2 separate regions of the Homo sapiens genome follow, and region 1 is linked to region 2. A link means that fine-mapping ties the variant in region 2 to the expression of a gene that starts in the linked region. Tissue or cell type: pancreas. Region 2 holds a variant in brackets; the other region holds the start of a gene. All regions are shown on one strand. Distances are between the middles of the regions.

Region 1 (8,062 bases), 110 kb before region 2:
AGACTCCGTCTCAAAAAAAGAAAAAGAAAAAAAGAATGACACAGATATAGACCCAAAGTGAGGTCCCATATAGACGTATATAGTAGACACAGACACACAACACATGAAGATGCAATTGGAGTGAGAGAGCCCCACCCAAACTCTGCCTGGACCATACAGAGATACACAGGGGCACACACTAGAGGTTCCCTAGTCACCCTAAAATCTGGATGGGTTTTTTTGGTTGTTGTTGTTTTTGAGATGGAGTCTTGCTTTGTTACCTAGGCTAGAGTGTAATGGCGCGTTCTCGGCTCACTGCAATCTCTGCCTCCCAGGTTCAAGCAATTCTCTTGCCTCAACCTCCTGAGTAGCTGGGATTACAGGCGCTCACCACCACGCCTGGCTGATTATTGTATTATTAGTAGAGACAGGGTTTCACTATGTTGGCCAGGCTGGTCTTGAACCCCTGACCTCAAGTGATCTGTCTGCCTTGACCTCCCAAAGTGCTGGGATTACTGGCGCGAGCCACCAAGCCCGGCCCCAACCTGGATGTTACGGACAAGGATGTTACCGACAAGGATGTTACAAATTTCCCCTCCCCCAGTCCCCGAAACCAGCCCTCCCCCCCATCAAATCAGGCACAGCCTGTTGCACAAACTCGAAGGCCTTATGACACAATGGATGCAGGACACATGCCCGTGTACACACAGTCACAGATCCTCCATCTCACACCTACAAAGACCAGCACATTTGGCCAGGCGCCGTGGCTCACGCCTGAAATCCCAGCACTTTAGGAGGCAGAGGCAGGAGGATTACTTGAAGTCAGGAGGTCGAGACCATCCTGGGCAACATAGCAAAACCCTTTCTCTCAAAAACACAAAAAAACCTAGCACATTTCACATGGACTCAGACACACACAGACACAGGGAGGGGGGACTGGCTAGGAGTTCCTGGCAGGATGTCAATATCTGGGCTGTAGGGGGCCTGCCAGAGTCCTCCATGGTGATGATGCATGGAGTCCACCCAGTGGCTGTGGTCAGCCAGGGGAGTGGCAGAGGGGCACTGTTCTCCAGTTGTGGGACTGAGGGTCCCCTTCTCAGCCCTGATGAAGACTGGATCCCTGCCCAGATGTGAACGCTGGAGGGGGCAGGCCGGGGTCCAGCTGTGGCCACAGGGAGGGGTTGAGTCAGCCGCTTCCCAGCAGTACAACCTAGGCTGGGCCCAGCTGTTCCTGGAAACCAGTAGAGGGGGTGGGCTCCCCAATCCAGCTGGGGGCTGCTGGCCCAGACCTGCACACCAGGGCTCTGTGTCCCTACAAATGGCGGCCTTCAGACCATCCCCCAAAACGTTGGGGGCTCTCTTTACCTAAAACAGGGGTTTGGATCCTTCTTCCAAAATGTGGAGGGTTTTTCAGCCCCTCTTGCTGAATTAAAGGTGCCTGGATCTCCGCACAGCGGGGCTCCCTGTGTTTCAAAACAGAGATTGCTGCTGTCTTCCCCGCCGACATAGAAGCTCACTGCTTTTCCCCAAATGTGGGACTCCCTGCCGCCGCAAAATGGAGGGTTATGCTCCTCCCCCAAATTGAGCACACCCAGATTTTCCTTAAGTCTGGGGACTCCTGGCTCCCCGAACATCTGGGACGCCCACAACATCACGCCAACATTAGCACAATTTAAGTCAATTTGCCTAAATATTTGGATTTCCAGATTTCCCCTAAACATCAAAATCCCTGCGACCCCCGCCCTAATGTGGTGATCTCAGCATGTCCAGCCACCCATGCTTGTAACAGCTGTGGTTCCTGGCTCACCTCCCATTGCTACCTGGGAACGGGGTGGCCCTGTTTCCCTGTATTGGCAGCACCCTCTCCTCTGGTGAATGCGAGGTCGGGGAGCCAACGGCAGCTGTTCCCACGACCGCCGGAAGACAGCCCAGTCCGGAAGCCAGCGCTGCCGGCCCTTGTCCCCTTCCCCCACTATCCTCTCCACCCGCTCCCAGGGGCTGGAGTCTGGAAAACCACGCGGGAGGAGGTTGTGGGGATATGGACGAGCATCCGAGGCCCCCGGGTGCGTACGGCTGCGCATGAGTGGGCTGTAATCGGGTGTCTGGGGGTGAGTGACTGCGTTCGTGCGATGCGCGCGGGGAGCAGCTGTCACTTTGCCCACCCTGCTCCGGGGCAAGGTCTCTGGCGCCAGGATCTTCTGGGTGGGTGGGAGCAGCGCCCCTCCCCTCCGATCTGGGCCCGCCCCCAATGCAGAGCCCGCCCCTCCCTCTGGGTACAGCTAATAACCTCTAATTAGTGCACATTACCCCGCCCGTCTACCGGGGAGGGGTTGCAGAGGGACCCTGGGGTCACAGGGCGCGAGCCTGGGCTTCACCCTTCCCCTCAAAACCCGGTCCACTCGGAACCTCTGTTTTCTCGCCGGCAAAGCAGGGAATTAAAACAGCACTTGCCATCTGGAGACATGGGGAGGATTCAATAGTCTATGTATTTAAATCGCTTAGCGCAAGGACTGCATACAGTAAGCACTCCATACATGGTGACTGCAATTTATTGTTAACTATAATTCCCATCACTTTCCATTGACCCCCGCTCCACCGCCCCAGCCGGGGTTTCAGGGCGGGCGCACAGTCTTCCCCCTAGGCCGCGTTCTGCGGTCTCCGCGCCCCCTGGTGGGCCCGGGCGACGCGGCAGCTTCAGCCAAATCCTGGGTTCTGAGGTGGGGGTGATGCCGGGCGCGCATCTGGGGAGGGCAAGGCGCGGGGGGAATATCGTGGAAGACGGATCCAGGCTGGGCAAGGGTGCCTATCCATCAGCCAGGACATGTGTGTCTAACTGACCTCTTCTCGACCTAGGACCATACCCGTGTCCCCTTATCTACTGCTGGAGTCAATAATGCAGGGAGGATCCATTCATTTATTTATTTCTTGAAACAGGGTCTCCCCCCTGACGTCCAGGCTGGAGTGCAGTGGCGCGACCACGGCTCACTGCAGCGTTGACCTCCCGGACTCAAGCGATCCTCCCACCTCAGCCTCTGGAGTAGCTGGGAATAGGCGCGTGCCACCACGCCCAGCTACTTTTATTTTTTATTTTATTTTTGTAGAGACGGAGTCTCGCTGTGTTGCCAGGGCTGTTCTCGAACTCCTGGGTTCAAGCAGTCCTCCCTCCTCGACCTCCCAAAGTGCTGGGATTACAGATGTGAACCATCGCGCCAGGCATTTTATTTTATTTTATTTTATTTTATTTATTTTTTTTGAGACAGTCTCACTCTGTCGCCCAGGCTGGAGTGCAGTGGCGCGATCTCGGCTCACTGCAACCTCCGCCTCTTGGGTTCAAGCTATTCTCCTGCCTCAACCTCCCGAGTAGCTGGGACTACAGGCGCGTGCCACCATGCCCGGCTAATTTTTTGTATTTTTAGTAGAGAAGGGGTTTCACCGTGTTAGCCAGGATGGTCTCGATCTCCTGACCTCGTGATCCGCCTGCCTAGGCCTCCCAAAGTGCTGGGATACAGACGTGAGCCGCCGCGCCCGGCCCTATTTTTAAATTTTTACTGTTTTTTTTTGAGACAGAGTCTTGCTCTGTCACCCAGACTGGAGTGTAGTGGCCCTATCACGGCTCACTGCAGTCTCGACCTCCTGGGCTCAAGCTATCCTCCCACCTCAGCCTCTGTAGAGCTAGGAGCTAGGACCACAGAAACACGCCAACATGTCTGGCTAATTTTTTTTTTTTTTTTTTTGAGGAGTCTTGCACTGTTGCCCCCTGGAGTGCAGTGGTACGATCTCGGCTGACTGCAACCTCCGCCTCCAGGGTTCAAGCGATTCTCCTGCCTCAGCCTCCCGAGTAGCTGAAATCAGGCGTGCGCCACCACGCCCAGCTAATTTTTAGTATTTTTAGTAGAGACGGGGTTTCACCATGTTGGCCAGGCTGGTCTCGAACACCTGACCTCGTGATCCGCCCGCCTCGGCCTCCCAAAGTGCTGGGATTACAGGCGTGAGCCACCGCTACCTGGGTAATTTTTAAATTTTTTGAAGAGAGGCTGGTCTCCAACTTCTATCCAAATTAATTCTCCCTCCTAGGCCTCCCAAAATACTGGGATTACAGTCGAGAGCCACCGCGTCCGGCGGGAAAACCCCTTTAGCATCCCCTCTCCCAGTCCATAGAAAGTGCCAGGGCTCGCCCCTCCCCGCACAACGGCTCCGATTATAAAGTGGTTAGACACAAGAATTTACTTAAGGCCGGGCGCGGTGGCTCACGCCTGTAATCCCAGCACTTTGGGAGGCCGAGGCGGGCGGATCACGAGGTCAGGAGATCGAGACCATCCTGGCTAACACGGTGAAACCCCGTCTCTACTAAAAATACAAAAAATTAGCCGGGCGAGGTGGCGGGCGCCTGTAGTCCCAGCTACTCGGGAGGCTGAGGCAGGAGAATGGCGTGAACCCCAGGGGGCGGAGCCTGCAGTGAGCCGAGATTGCGCCACTGCACTCCAGCCTGGGCGACAGCGAGACTCCGTCTCAAAAAAAAAAAAAAAAAAAAAAAGAATTTACTTAAGTTGCAGGGAAAAGACGTGAATGCGCTTGTGTAACAGGGTGGAGCACCTCCGTCTCAAAAGGATCTTGAGGACCTCCCACCCCAAAAAGGGCCAGGGCGAGGATGGGAGGTGGGACCACCCTCGGATGCACAAGGCTGGGCCAGGCTGACCCCTAGCGGCAGGGCGGGCGCCCGAACGGTGCCCGGATCCAAGATGGCGGGGCTGGAGGCAAGAGCGGGCGTAGGGAGGAGATTACGTTCCGAGGCGGAGCCTGGGCTTGGGGGCGGGGCGGGGCCTGCGCCTAGGGGGGCGGGGCGGGGCGGCGCTCTAGGCCGAGCGGGAGGTCGGGGCTGCGGGCGCTCGCTGGTGGCGGACCCGGAGGCTGCTGCGGCGCCGGGGCTCCGTGGCCTGGATTGAATCCGATCGGGAGCCATGAGCGTGGACAAAGCTGAGCTATGCGGGTCTCTGCTCACCTGGGTAGGTCGTGGGGCGGGGCTAGGGGAAGGTGAGCGCCCGCTCCTCTTGCCCGGGATCCCTGGCCCTGGTTCGGTCAGTCTCTTGGTGCTGGGGCTGGGAGGTGCGGGGTCGTCGACTTGCTGGACCGTTGGACTCTGGCCCGAGCACCCGCCCCCGTCACGTGGCAAGTCTGCGTGGAAAGGACAGGTGAGGCCCCGCCCCTCTGTGGTTGGTTCACGTGGGGCGAGGACACAGGTGAATTGGCCTGGTCACGTGGTGCCTGTGGGGCCCAGGTGACTCGCGATACCACCCTGGCCTGGACGCGCAGGGTTTGTTGGGCAGAGGTGAGGTGAGGCCACGCCCCCTCCGGTCTCAGGTGAGCAGAAGCCAGTCCCTCGCAGAGCTGCTGTGGCGGAGCAGCGCCCGCCCCACCATGTGAGGTTCGCTGACTGGAAAAGTCTGCAAAAGGGGAGCGGTTCGGCGCTCCCAGGCCCTAACTCTTTCCTTGTCCTTTCCTTTACCCCTCAGTTACAGACGTTCCACGTTCCGTCTCCCTGTGCCAGCCCTCAGGACCTGAGCAGCGGCCTTGCCGTAGCCTATGTGCTGAACCAGATGTGAGTGGAGCTGAAGGGGAGGATCCCAAAAGTGTCCCCCAGTCTGCTCATCCCACCTTCTCGCCCCCAGAGACCCCTCCTGGTTCAACGAGGCATGGCTCCAGGGCATCTCGGAAGATCCAGGTCCCAACTGGAAGCTGAAGGTGACAAGTGGACTCCTGATTAGAGGACAGACTGGTGAAGAGATGACCAGGGACGGGCCAGCTAGGCACATGTCCTGGGTGATGGGCAGGAAGAGGGACAGATGTCTGGTGATCAACCATTTGTTCATCCATTCATCTATGGAGTACTCACCCTGTGCCAGGCCTGGGCATTCAGCAAGGAATAACACAGACAAAAACCTGCCCCACACAGCCATCATTCTAGTGACAAGCAACACATACACAACCATAAAAATTAACTTCCAGGCTGGGCGCAGTGGCTCATGCCTGTAATCCCAACACTTTGAGAGGCTAAAGTGGGTGGATCACCTGGGGCCAGGAGTTCAAGACCAGCCTGGCCAACAAGTTGAAACCCCATCTCTACTAAAAATACAAAAATTAGCTGGGTGGGGTGGTGTGCACCTGTAATCCCAGTTACTTGGGAGGCTGAGACATGAGAATCACTTGAACCTGGGAGGTGGAGGATGCAGTGAGCTGAGATTGAGCCATTGCACTCCAGCCTGGGCAACAGAGCGAGACTCTTGTCTCAAGAAGAAGAAAAAAAGAAAAAGAAAAAGAAAAAGAAAAAACTTTTGATGCCAGTAGTTCTGTGAAGACAACAAAAAAGCAGGGCTTTGAGAGAGAGCAATGAGGGCATAGGTGGCTGATTACATCAGATGGGTTAATCTCCAAGTGAAATTTGGGGGAACGGTGTTCCAGGCATAGGGAATAGCAGATGTAAAGGCCGTGATTTGGGAATAAACTTGGTGTGATGGAGGAATGGCAGAGAGGGCAGAACAGAGCAAGAGGGCAAGATTTGTAGGAGATGAGGTCATCAGGGGCCTGGCAGGCCATGGTGGGGGTGTGGATTCTATTTTTAAGTGCTGTGGAAAGTCAAGGCAGGGTTTTAGCAGAGCAAAGATGCAACCTGGCTTGGGCTTTATAAAGCTCCCCCTGGCTGCATGGAGAGAAATAAAATGTAGGCAGCAAAAGTGGAAGAGGAGAGGCAGCTGGTGCACTAATCCAGGTGAGAGGTAAAGATGGATGGGTAGGGCTGAAGGATGGTGGGGCAGGTGGTGAGAAGTGACTTGGTTCTGGAGACATATGAAGGAAGATGGTCAGGCAGGCCGGGCACAGTGGCTCATGCCTGTAATCCCAGCAATTTTAGAGGCTGAGGTGGGAGGATTGCTTGAGCTCAGGAGCTTGAGACCAGCCTGGGCTACATAGCAAAACCTCCTCTCTACAAATAAAAAAAAGTAGTCGATTGTGGTGGCATATGCCTGTAGTCCCAGCTACTGGGAGGCAGAGATAGGAGGATTGCTTGACCCCAGGAGGTCGAGGCTGCAGTGAGCCAAGATTGCACCACTGCACTCCAGCCTGGGTGACAGAGCCAGACCCTGTCTTAAAAAGCTAAAGCAAAAAAAAAAAAAAAAAAAAAAAGAAACAAAGATGGTCAGGCAGACAAAAGGGGCAGACAGCCAGACAGGTCACCCCTAGAGGAAGGCGCACGCAGACAGAATAGGATGAGATGAGCAGGGAAGGAGAAGTGAGGTGGAGAGAGGATGGGACCTACAGATTCAGAGTGGGAGGCCTCTGAACTTGTCCACAGTTCCTTGTTCCTCCCTAGGTCAGCAATCTGAAGATGGTCTTACGGAGCCTAGTAGAGTACTCCCAGGATGTGAGTAACTGTAAAGGGATTCAGGGGGTTGAGTTGGGAGAAGGGTGGGCCCATGAGCCCCTGACACCCCCTTCTCCCCAGGTCCTGGCGCATCCTGTGTCAGAAGAGCATCTCCCAGATGTGAGCCTCATTGGAGAGTTCTCAGACCCGGCAGAGCTCGGCAAGCTGCTTCAGCTGGTGCTGGGCTGTGCCATCAGTTGCGAGAAAAAGCAGGGTATGGGGAGCTTAGGGGGTCCCCAGGGCTGGCCTGAGGAAATCCTCCTTCCTCCCCACCTCACCCCTGGGTCTCAGCCTCCCCCACCTTGATCCCCAGACCACATCCAGAGAATCATGACGCTGGAAGAATCGGTTCAGCATGTGGTGATGGAAGCCATCCAAGAGGTGGGTGGGGGCACTCAGTGTGCAATTGGAAAATGTCAGGAGAGGGGACATCTCTAGGGCAGAGAGAACTGGGCACAGGTCCTGCCCTGGTAAGGTCTGGACTCTGCCTGGAACTCAGCTGGCCAGACATCTCTGTCTCATGTGTCTGCCAGCTCCTCCCAGCTCTAAGTCGCAATCTAGCAGGCTCAAGGGATCTGGCTTCCCTCTGTGTTGGAGGCAGGAGGGCAGCCTCTGGGCTGGGGTTATTGGGCAGAACTGGCCTTGACGGGAGGATGGAGAGGTTCTCAG
Region 2 (8,075 bases):
GTCCACTTATATGTGGATTTTCTTCTGCCTCTATCAGCTGTGAGACACCAAGATCAATCCCTCCTCTTCCTCCTCCTCTGCTTTCTCAACACGAAGATCTTTATGACGATCTCTTCACTTCCACTTAATGAATAGAAAATATATTTTTTCCACCAGGCGCGGTGGCTCACGCCTGTGATTCCAGCTCTTTGGGAGGCCAGGGCAGGTGGATCACGAGGTCAAGAGATGGAGACCCTCCTGGCCAACATGGCGAAACCCCGTCTCTACTAAAAATACAAAAATTAGCTGGGCGTGGTGGCACGCGACTGTAGTCCCAGCTACTAGGGAGGCTGAGGCAGGAGAATCGCCTGAACCTAGAAGTTAGAGGTTGCAGTGAGCCGAGATCACGTCACTGCACTCCAGCCTGGCAACAGAGCGAGACTGCGTCTCAAAAAAAACAAAAATTCTTCCTTATGATTATTTTTATGTATTTATTTATTTAATTTATTTACTTATTTTGAGACGGAGTCTTGCTCTATCGCCCAGGAGTGTAGTGGTGCGATGTCGGCTCACAGCAAGCTCTGCCTCCTGGGTTCACTCCATTCTCCTGCCTCAGCCTCCTGAGTAGCTGGGACTACAGGCGCCTGCCACTATGCCCGGCTAATTTTTTGTATTTTTAGTAGAGACGGGGTTTCACCGTGTTAGCCAGAATGATCTCGATCTCCTGACCTCATGATCCGCCTGCCTCTGCCTCCCAAAGTGCTGGGATTACAGGCATGAGCCACAGCGCCCGGCCTATTTTTATTTATTTTTAGAAATCATTTTATCTTTTTTTTTTTGAGATGGAGTCTCACTTTGTCGCCCAGGCTGGAGTGCAGTGGCACAATCTCGGCTCACTGCAACCTCCAACTCCCGGGTTCAGGCGATTCTCCTGCCTCCGCCTCCCGAGTGGCTGGGATTACAGGCTCCCGTCACCACACCTGGCTAATTTTTGCATTTTTAGTAGAGACGGGGTTTCACCATGTTGGCCAGGCTGATCTCAACCTCCTGACCTCAAGTGATCTGCCCACCTTGGCCTCCCAAAGTGCTGGGATTACAGGTGTGAGCCACCGTGCCCGGCCAGATTATTATTATTTTGTAGACAGTCTGTCTTTCACCCAGCATGGAGTGCAATGGTGCCTCGAACTCTTGGACTCAAGTGATCCTTCCACTTCAGCCTCCCAAGTAGCTGGGATTACAGCTGTGTGCCACTGTGCCCAGCTGAGAGTAGGTTTTAATCTGAGCATGGGGGCAGCTATGATTCCCCGTAGCACCTGGGGTGAGACCAGGTCCTGGCTCCACTCACCCTGCCAGGATCTCGTGGTCTGACACCTTCACACTGGACACGCCATCTCTGGCCTCATCCAGCGTCTGCACTGGCTCAGGCCTCCGTGAGCGGCAATCCCAACAGCGGATACTGGAATCAATAGAGCCTGTGAGGCCAGCATGATGGTGAGGTCAGGTTTGGAGGGGGAGGGCAGCACCCTGGGCCCCCGTGCTTAGGCCCCAGACTCACCGGACAGGATAACTGTGGCCTCTTCATTAAACTGCACCGTGTTCACCTTCTGAGAAAGTTATTGCCACTCAGAGGAGGCTGGACTTTGGAGGACTGGGATAAAGGCAGGGTTCCCAGTGTCGGTTAAAGCAAGGGCGAAGGGGAGGTGAAAGGTTTTGGGGGAACAGCAAGGACAGGGGTTGGTGACTGCCTAGCCTGGCATGCGGAGTGGGGGATCGTCATCTGGGGAAGGGATCCTTACGGTGTAATGGGGGTGGCCGTGTCACCACCTATGCGCTAATACGGGTCCCCTCCACTCAAATGAGGGTCTCCAGGCTTTCACTCACCCCTGCGTGGCCCCGGAATTTGCGCACGACCTGCCCTGATGCCACATCCCACAGAACCACCGCCTTGTCCCCGCCGCCGGAGCAGAGACTACTGTTGTCAAAGGAGCTGGAGTAAAGGAGGAGGAGGATCAGCATCGACCTCGGATCCCAGCCTCAGCGCTCCCATCCCAGCCTGGTCCCCGGCTCACCCGGCCGCATCCAGCACCTCGTAGCCGTGGCCGCTGTACGTCCGCAGCAGCGTCCCCCGAAGCGGGTTCCACAGCTTCAGCGTCTTGTCACTGCCGCACGTCAGGCAGTAATTGCCATCCACTGGGGAACACCAGGCGGGGGTTACTGGGCCGTCGATCTCAGGAGGCGGGAGGAGGACCCGGAATGAAGACGAAGGCGCTCACCATTAAATCGTACGGCTCGCACTGCCCCCTGCCCGCAGTCCAGCGTCTTCAACCGTTTCTGCGGCAGCTCTGGAGGCCGCGGCTTTGGCTCAGGGAAAGCCATGCTCCCAGGACTCCTTCCTTGCAGCCTTAAATCGGTCTGTACGGAAAATTCCGCGCCTTAGAAACCCACGCTTGGGTGTAACCTTATTATTGTTCTTCCTGACCTACTTCCTGTTTATCACTTCCGGGTTCATCATTTTGGCATTTCGGTGATCGGGTTGGAACTATTGAAGCCCGCTTTCAGGTTCTTTTCCCCATTTTCCCTTTGAAAGGAAGACTTCTGGCTTCTCCTAAATCTCCGTTCTCTGGGTAAGGGGAGTCCAAGCCTCTGTCATGAGGAACGGAAATGCGAGGGCCTCGGGTGTTACTCTAAAATCCGCCCTCAGCTTGCACGCCGGAAGCTGCGATTCCTGCAGCGGAAGAGGCGTGATCTGGCCTTCGACTCGCTATGTCCACTAACAATATGTCGGACCCACGGAGGCCGAACAAAGTGCTGAGGTGAGGACCCCAGCGTCGTGGGCACGGGTTCGGGTTGTGGGTGTGGATCGGGGCCCTGGGAAGCGCCTGTCTATCCCGGGGGCAGGACCTGAGCGCCCCTGACCCTCGAGCCTGTCGCAGGTACAAGCCCCCGCCGAGCGAATGTAACCCGGCCTTGGACGACCCGACGCCGGACTACATGAACCTGCTGGGCATGATCTTCAGCATGTGCGGCCTCATGCTTAAGGTGGGCGGGGTTGAGCTTCTATGGGTGTAGTTGGACCTGAGAACGAGGCCCGGGGGCGGGTTTGGAATGAAGCGGGGTGTCTTGTCATTGCTGATGGGGCGGGACCTGAGATCGGCCGGGAGTGGGGCTGCGATGACGCTGGGCCGAGAAAGCCCCAGTCTTTGGTGAAGTCAAGGATTCGAGTCAGGTTGGGGATGTGGCAGATTGGTCTGCGAGTGGGGCCAGGCTTTGAAGCAACTTGGAGAGGAGTTGTGGAAAAAGGGCAGGGTCTTAAGCATGTGGGATGTCAGAGTCTCTCTTGGTCCTGAGAGACGCAGGCCAGACAGTAGGACTAGAAACCACGTATCTAGAGTATGCCATGAGCAGGTGGGACTGAGGAATTCCGGGTGGGGCAAGGTCCCAGCTGCATCAGATGGAATCAGTGGGCATGATCTGGTGTCTGGAAAGGTGGCTTCGGGGACTCATTGTTGTGCCTTTCACTAACCTGCCCACCCACTTACCTTTCCCTAGCTGAAGTGGTGTGCTTGGGTCGCTGTCTACTGCTCCTTCATCAGCTTTGCCAACTCTCGGAGCTCGGAGGACACGAAGCAAATGATGAGTAGCTTCATGTGAGACTTGCCCTACAGAACAAGTGACTCTTGAGTAAGGGGTGGGGGGACCCCAGCCTGGCCATCCTAGACTGACACCTCTCTCCTGTCTCAGGCTGTCCATCTCTGCCGTGGTGATGTCCTATCTGCAGAATCCTCAGCCCATGACGCCCCCATGGTGATACCAGCCTAGAAGGGTCACATTTTGGACCCTGTCTATCCACTAGGCCTGGGCTTTGGCTGCTAAACCTGCTGCCTTCAGCTGCCATCCTGGACTTCCCTGAATGAGGCCGTCTCGGTGCCCCCAGCTGGATAGAGGGAACCTGGCCCTTTCCTAGGGAACACCCTAGGCTTACCCCTCCTGCCTCCCTTCCCCTGCCTGCTGCTGGGGGAGATGCTGTCCATGTTTCTAGGGGTATTCATTTGCTTTCTCGTTGAAACCTGTTGTTAATAAAGTTTTTCACTCTGGCTGTCAGCCTCTTCTGTTCAGTGGGGTGTTCCTCCTACCTGGCGGGAAGGGCTCTAGCCCCATAGGCCTGGTGTGGGGCCCCAGTCTGGAGGCTTCTGGCTGTTCATTTGCTTACTTCATAAACCTTGTGTCTTAAGTCAGGTGCTAGGGACAAGACAGTGACTTCTGCCCTCTGGCAACTCACCAGATGGCCCTGCTGACCTAGATAATCTAGGCTTTGGTTTCCTTTTTTTTTTTTCCTTTTTAAGAAAGAAAATGGTCTTGATCTGTCATGCAGGCTGAGTGCAGTGGCACAATCTATGTTCACTGCAGCCTCAAACTCCTGGGCTCAAGCAATCCTCCCACCTCAGCCTGCCACGTAACTGGGACCACAAATGCGTGCTACCATGCCCAGTTAATTCTTGTTTTTTTTGAGACAGAGTTTTGCTCTTGTTGCCCAGGCTGGAGGGCAATGGCATGATCTTGATCTCGGCTCACTGCAACCTCCGCCTCCCAGGTTCAAGTGATTCTCCTGCCTCAGTCTCCCAAGTAGCTGGGATTACAGGCATGTGCCACCATGCCCAGCTAATTTTTGTATTTTTACATTTTGTGTAAAATTACAAATTTTGTGTTTTCAAACCCGTCTCTACAAAACAACCCATGTTGCCCAGGCTGGTCTCAAACTCCCAGGCCCAAGTGATTCACCAGCCTGGCCCTCCCAAAGTGCTGGGATTGCAGGCTTG[A/C]GCCACTGCGCCTGCCCTGGGCTTTGTTTTCTTATCAGAGAATGAACTGGTAGGAATTGGGAAAGGCATGAAAGACTCGGGGTCCTTCCCCACTTGTCAGACCCTCTTTTCTCTCCGGAACACCCAGGGATCCTTCTCAACCAGGCTGGATCCCATCCCTGGTACTCCAGGGGTATTTACCCAACGTCCCAATCCCCACAGTATAGGACTCTTCATCAGATCCTCCTCTTAGGCAAGCTAGGTCCTTCCAGGACCCTAGCGCTGAAGGTCCATGGGACGGACACCCTGGATTCCCATGGACACACTACACCGGCTAGGAAAACCCGGCCCCCTTAGGAAAAGCACTTCTGCTCCTACCGGCATTAAGAGGCATTCCGTCTTGGAATTCCGGCATTAAGAGGCATTCCGTCTTCATAGCCCGTGAGACGCCAGTGTCACCTTTAGCCCAACCAGTGCCCTGAGGGTGGCATTTTCCTACCTTCCTGTAACGACCCCCGGGATTGCCCAGGGCTACAGCCTCTCTCCCGTGAGCCTCCAGACCGCGCCCTGGCCCCGCCCCCCACCCCGATTGGCCCGGCCGGGTCTGGGGGCGGGGCGTTTGCCCGGCCTTTCCAGGGCCGGGGAACCCCAGGAGGAAGCTGCTGAGCCATGGGCGCCTACGCGCGGGCTTCGGGGGTCTGCGCTCGCGGCTGCCTGGACTCAGCAGGCCCCTGGACCATGTCCCGCGCCCTGCGGCCACCGCTCCCGCCTCTCTGCTTTTTCCTTTTGTTGCTGGCGGCTGCCGGTGCTCGGGCCGGGGGATACGAGGTGAGTGGGGCCTCCGAGCTGAAACGTACAGGAGGCAGAGTGAAACCCAGAATACAGTCTAGAGGTGTGGGTGGGTCTGTCCTGTGGGTGTCTAGTGAATGGCTGATGATATGACAGTGTGGTCTGAGTGCGTGCTTTGTGTCATTGCGAGGTCTGGCTGTGCGCATCTGAGTATAGGACTGTGTCTGATTGTACCTGCCTCCGTGTCTCCGGGATGCTTGCCTAGACTTTGTCTGCACTTAACTGTGGGATTGGAGGGGCAGGAGGTGGCAGGGGGTGAGCAGTGTATGTGTGGGGGGAGGTGCTGGCTGAGAGCTGGGACTCTGGAGTCTGCCTGAAATTCCAGCCTAGCTCTTACACTTCCTGAGTGTGTGACGTTGGGCAAGTCACCTATCCTCTCTAAGCCTCAGTGCCTTCATCTGGAAACTGGGGATAACATCACCCCACCTCCCACGGTGGCCGTCTGCTGTCGGCAAATGCTGAACAAACATCAGCTACTTCTATTATTATTTTCCCGGAGTGTGAATGAGAGCTGCCCTGTGGGGTTGTGCAAAGTGGAGTTGTATCTATGAGCACAACTATGTATGTGTGTGTCCTGCCTGGGAGGGCCTGGCCTCCTCTGCACATAGGCGAGATCAGGCCTCTCTGAGTCACTCACCTCTAGATCAAGACTTACTCTGCAGCCCCCGACCTCGGGGGTTATTGACAAGGTATGTGTGTTTGGGGTCCCTGTGCAGACATGCCCCACAGTGCAGCCGAACATGCTGAACGTGCACCTGCTGCCTCACACACATGATGACGTGGGCTGGCTCAAAACCGTGGACCAGTACTTTTATGGAAGTGAGTAGAGGATGGGGACTGGTCCCTGGGATCCCCATGGTCCCTGTAATCCCTCTGGGTCCTGGACATTAGGGTGGGGCCAGTGCTACCCTAATATCCAGGGTTTGGGCTCCTCTGTCTAGGAATAACCCCCTTGGCTCTGCTGTTCCCTGAGAGCCTTATCCCTGTTATCCACAGTCAAGAATGACATCCAGCACGCCGGTGTGCAGTACATCCTGGACTCGGTCATCTCTGCCTTGCTGGCAGATCCCACCCGTCGCTTCATTTACGTGGAGATTGCCTTCTTCTCCCGTTGGTGGCACCAGCAGACAAATGCCACACAGGAAGTCGTGCGAGACCTTGTGCGCCAGGGTGAGCCTACCCCAAGGAAGTGAAAAGAGGAAGCCCAGCCCAGCTTCTGCTTCTGCATCTCTGGTTTCTGAGATTTGTCATGCCACGTGCAAGCTGTATAACATGCGTGTCGCTCCGCCTGCCTGGACTCTCCATTTGGAGACCTCCTATACATCCCACAAAGCCCCACCTGCTGTGCATCCTCTGGGAAGCCTGCCATGCAGGGGGCCTCTTTCCCATATCTGGGAACTATGGCCTGGGAGCGACCCCTCTTGTCCTTCCGCCAGAAATGTGTACACAGGCAGGCTTTCACATTCCCAGTATCACCCACCCTACTCCCACTCCTGGCTCTGACCGCTGACCCTGACCTTGCCTGTCCTGGCACAGGGCGCCTGGAGTTCGCCAATGGTGGCTGGGTGATGAACGATGAGGCAGCCACCCACTACGGTGCCATCGTGGACCAGATGACACTTGGGCTGCGCTTTCTGGAGGACACATTTGGCAATGATGGGCGACCCCGTGTGGCCTGGCACATTGACCCCTTCGGCCACTCTCGGGAGCAGGCCTCGCTGTTTGCGCAGGTGCGACCCGGGACCTCTCTTGGGCCCACTTCTTCACTCACTCTGGCTCCTCCCTCGCCCAGTCAAACCCCGCCCTCTCCCTGCAATCTCACAAGGACCAGGCCCAGGCCTAGGCCTGTTGAAGCCCTGCCCCTTGAGTGAGCCGTAAAGCCAGTGGCTTTTGAGCTCTGGCCTCAGCCGGCTATGCCCAGCCCAGGCTGACCCAGCTCCGGCTGGCTCCGCCCTCTCCCCTAATAGGCCCCTCTTGGTGTTCTGGCCCCACCCACTAGCTCGGGTCCTGGCTCCTCCCTAAACCGGGTGGCAAGTGGATGCCTAGGCTGCCTTAAAAACAGGTTCATTACCTGTGCTCAGACCCCATCCATCCTCAGGCTGTGGAAGGGGGAACCTCATTCCTGGAGTCAGGCCTGCTCTGCGCTTTGACAGTGCTGGGGAGGTGAACCTGGGTTCTGATGTTGGACCCGCCCTCTCCCTGCTAGCCCAAGGTGGTGAGTTCTGAAACTTCCCCAAGCTTGGAAATAAGCTGGAGGCCTCTCTGTTTCAGCCCTACGTGTTTTTGTTTTTGTTTTTTGAGACAGGGTCTTGCTGTCATCCAGGCTGGAGTGCAGTGGTGCAATCCTAACTCACTATAGCCTCAATCTCCCGGATTCAAGCGATTCTCCTGTCTCAGCCCCCCTAGTAGATGAGACTACAAGAGCGCACCACTACGCCTGGCTAATTTTTA

What was found. PIP is the estimated chance that this variant, and not a neighbour inherited with it, causes the effect.
Region 1: HOOK2 starts here. The variant in region 2 is fine-mapped to the expression of HOOK2 in pancreas (GTEx, PIP 0.97).

Annotation. Positions count from the first base shown.
Region 1 is chr19:12,772,325-12,780,386 of GRCh38, reverse strand. HOOK2 (hook microtubule tethering protein 2) reads left to right here and starts at 4,835. Exons shown (of 23, transcript NM_013312.3): 1 at 4,835-4,982; 2 at 5,490-5,575; 3 at 5,646-5,718; 4 at 7,343-7,393; 5 at 7,475-7,607; 6 at 7,707-7,774. The coding sequence starts at 4,938. RefSeq lists cis regulatory regions at 656-1,256, 2,356-2,876, 4,376-5,017, enhancers at 1,451-1,500, 4,554-5,232, 5,233-5,913 and a silencer at 4,772-4,991.
Region 2 is chr19:12,664,071-12,672,145 of GRCh38, reverse strand. It overlaps MAN2B1 (mannosidase alpha class 2B member 1), which reads left to right and starts at 5,404. Exons shown (of 24, transcript NM_000528.4): 1 at 5,404-5,603; 2 at 6,341-6,443; 3 at 6,621-6,794; 4 at 7,161-7,354. The coding sequence starts at 5,445. WDR83 (WD repeat domain 83) reads right to left here and starts at 5,339. Exons shown (of 11, transcript NM_001099737.3): 1 at 5,154-5,339; 2 at 3,519-3,638; 3 at 2,253-2,391; 4 at 2,049-2,169; 5 at 1,861-1,966; 6 at 1,535-1,583; 7 at 1,325-1,451. The coding sequence starts at 2,355. WDR83OS (WD repeat domain 83 opposite strand) reads left to right here and starts at 2,731. Exons shown (of 4, transcript NM_016145.4): 1 at 2,731-2,792; 2 at 2,913-3,018; 3 at 3,529-3,626; 4 at 3,721-4,073. The coding sequence starts at 2,743. The coding sequence ends at 3,787. RefSeq lists a cis regulatory region at 1-235, enhancers at 1,110-1,783, 1,943-2,032, 2,173-2,262, 5,792-5,921, 5,942-6,071 and 5 more and a silencer at 5,262-5,541. The variant A/C (reference allele first, on the strand shown) is at 4,797.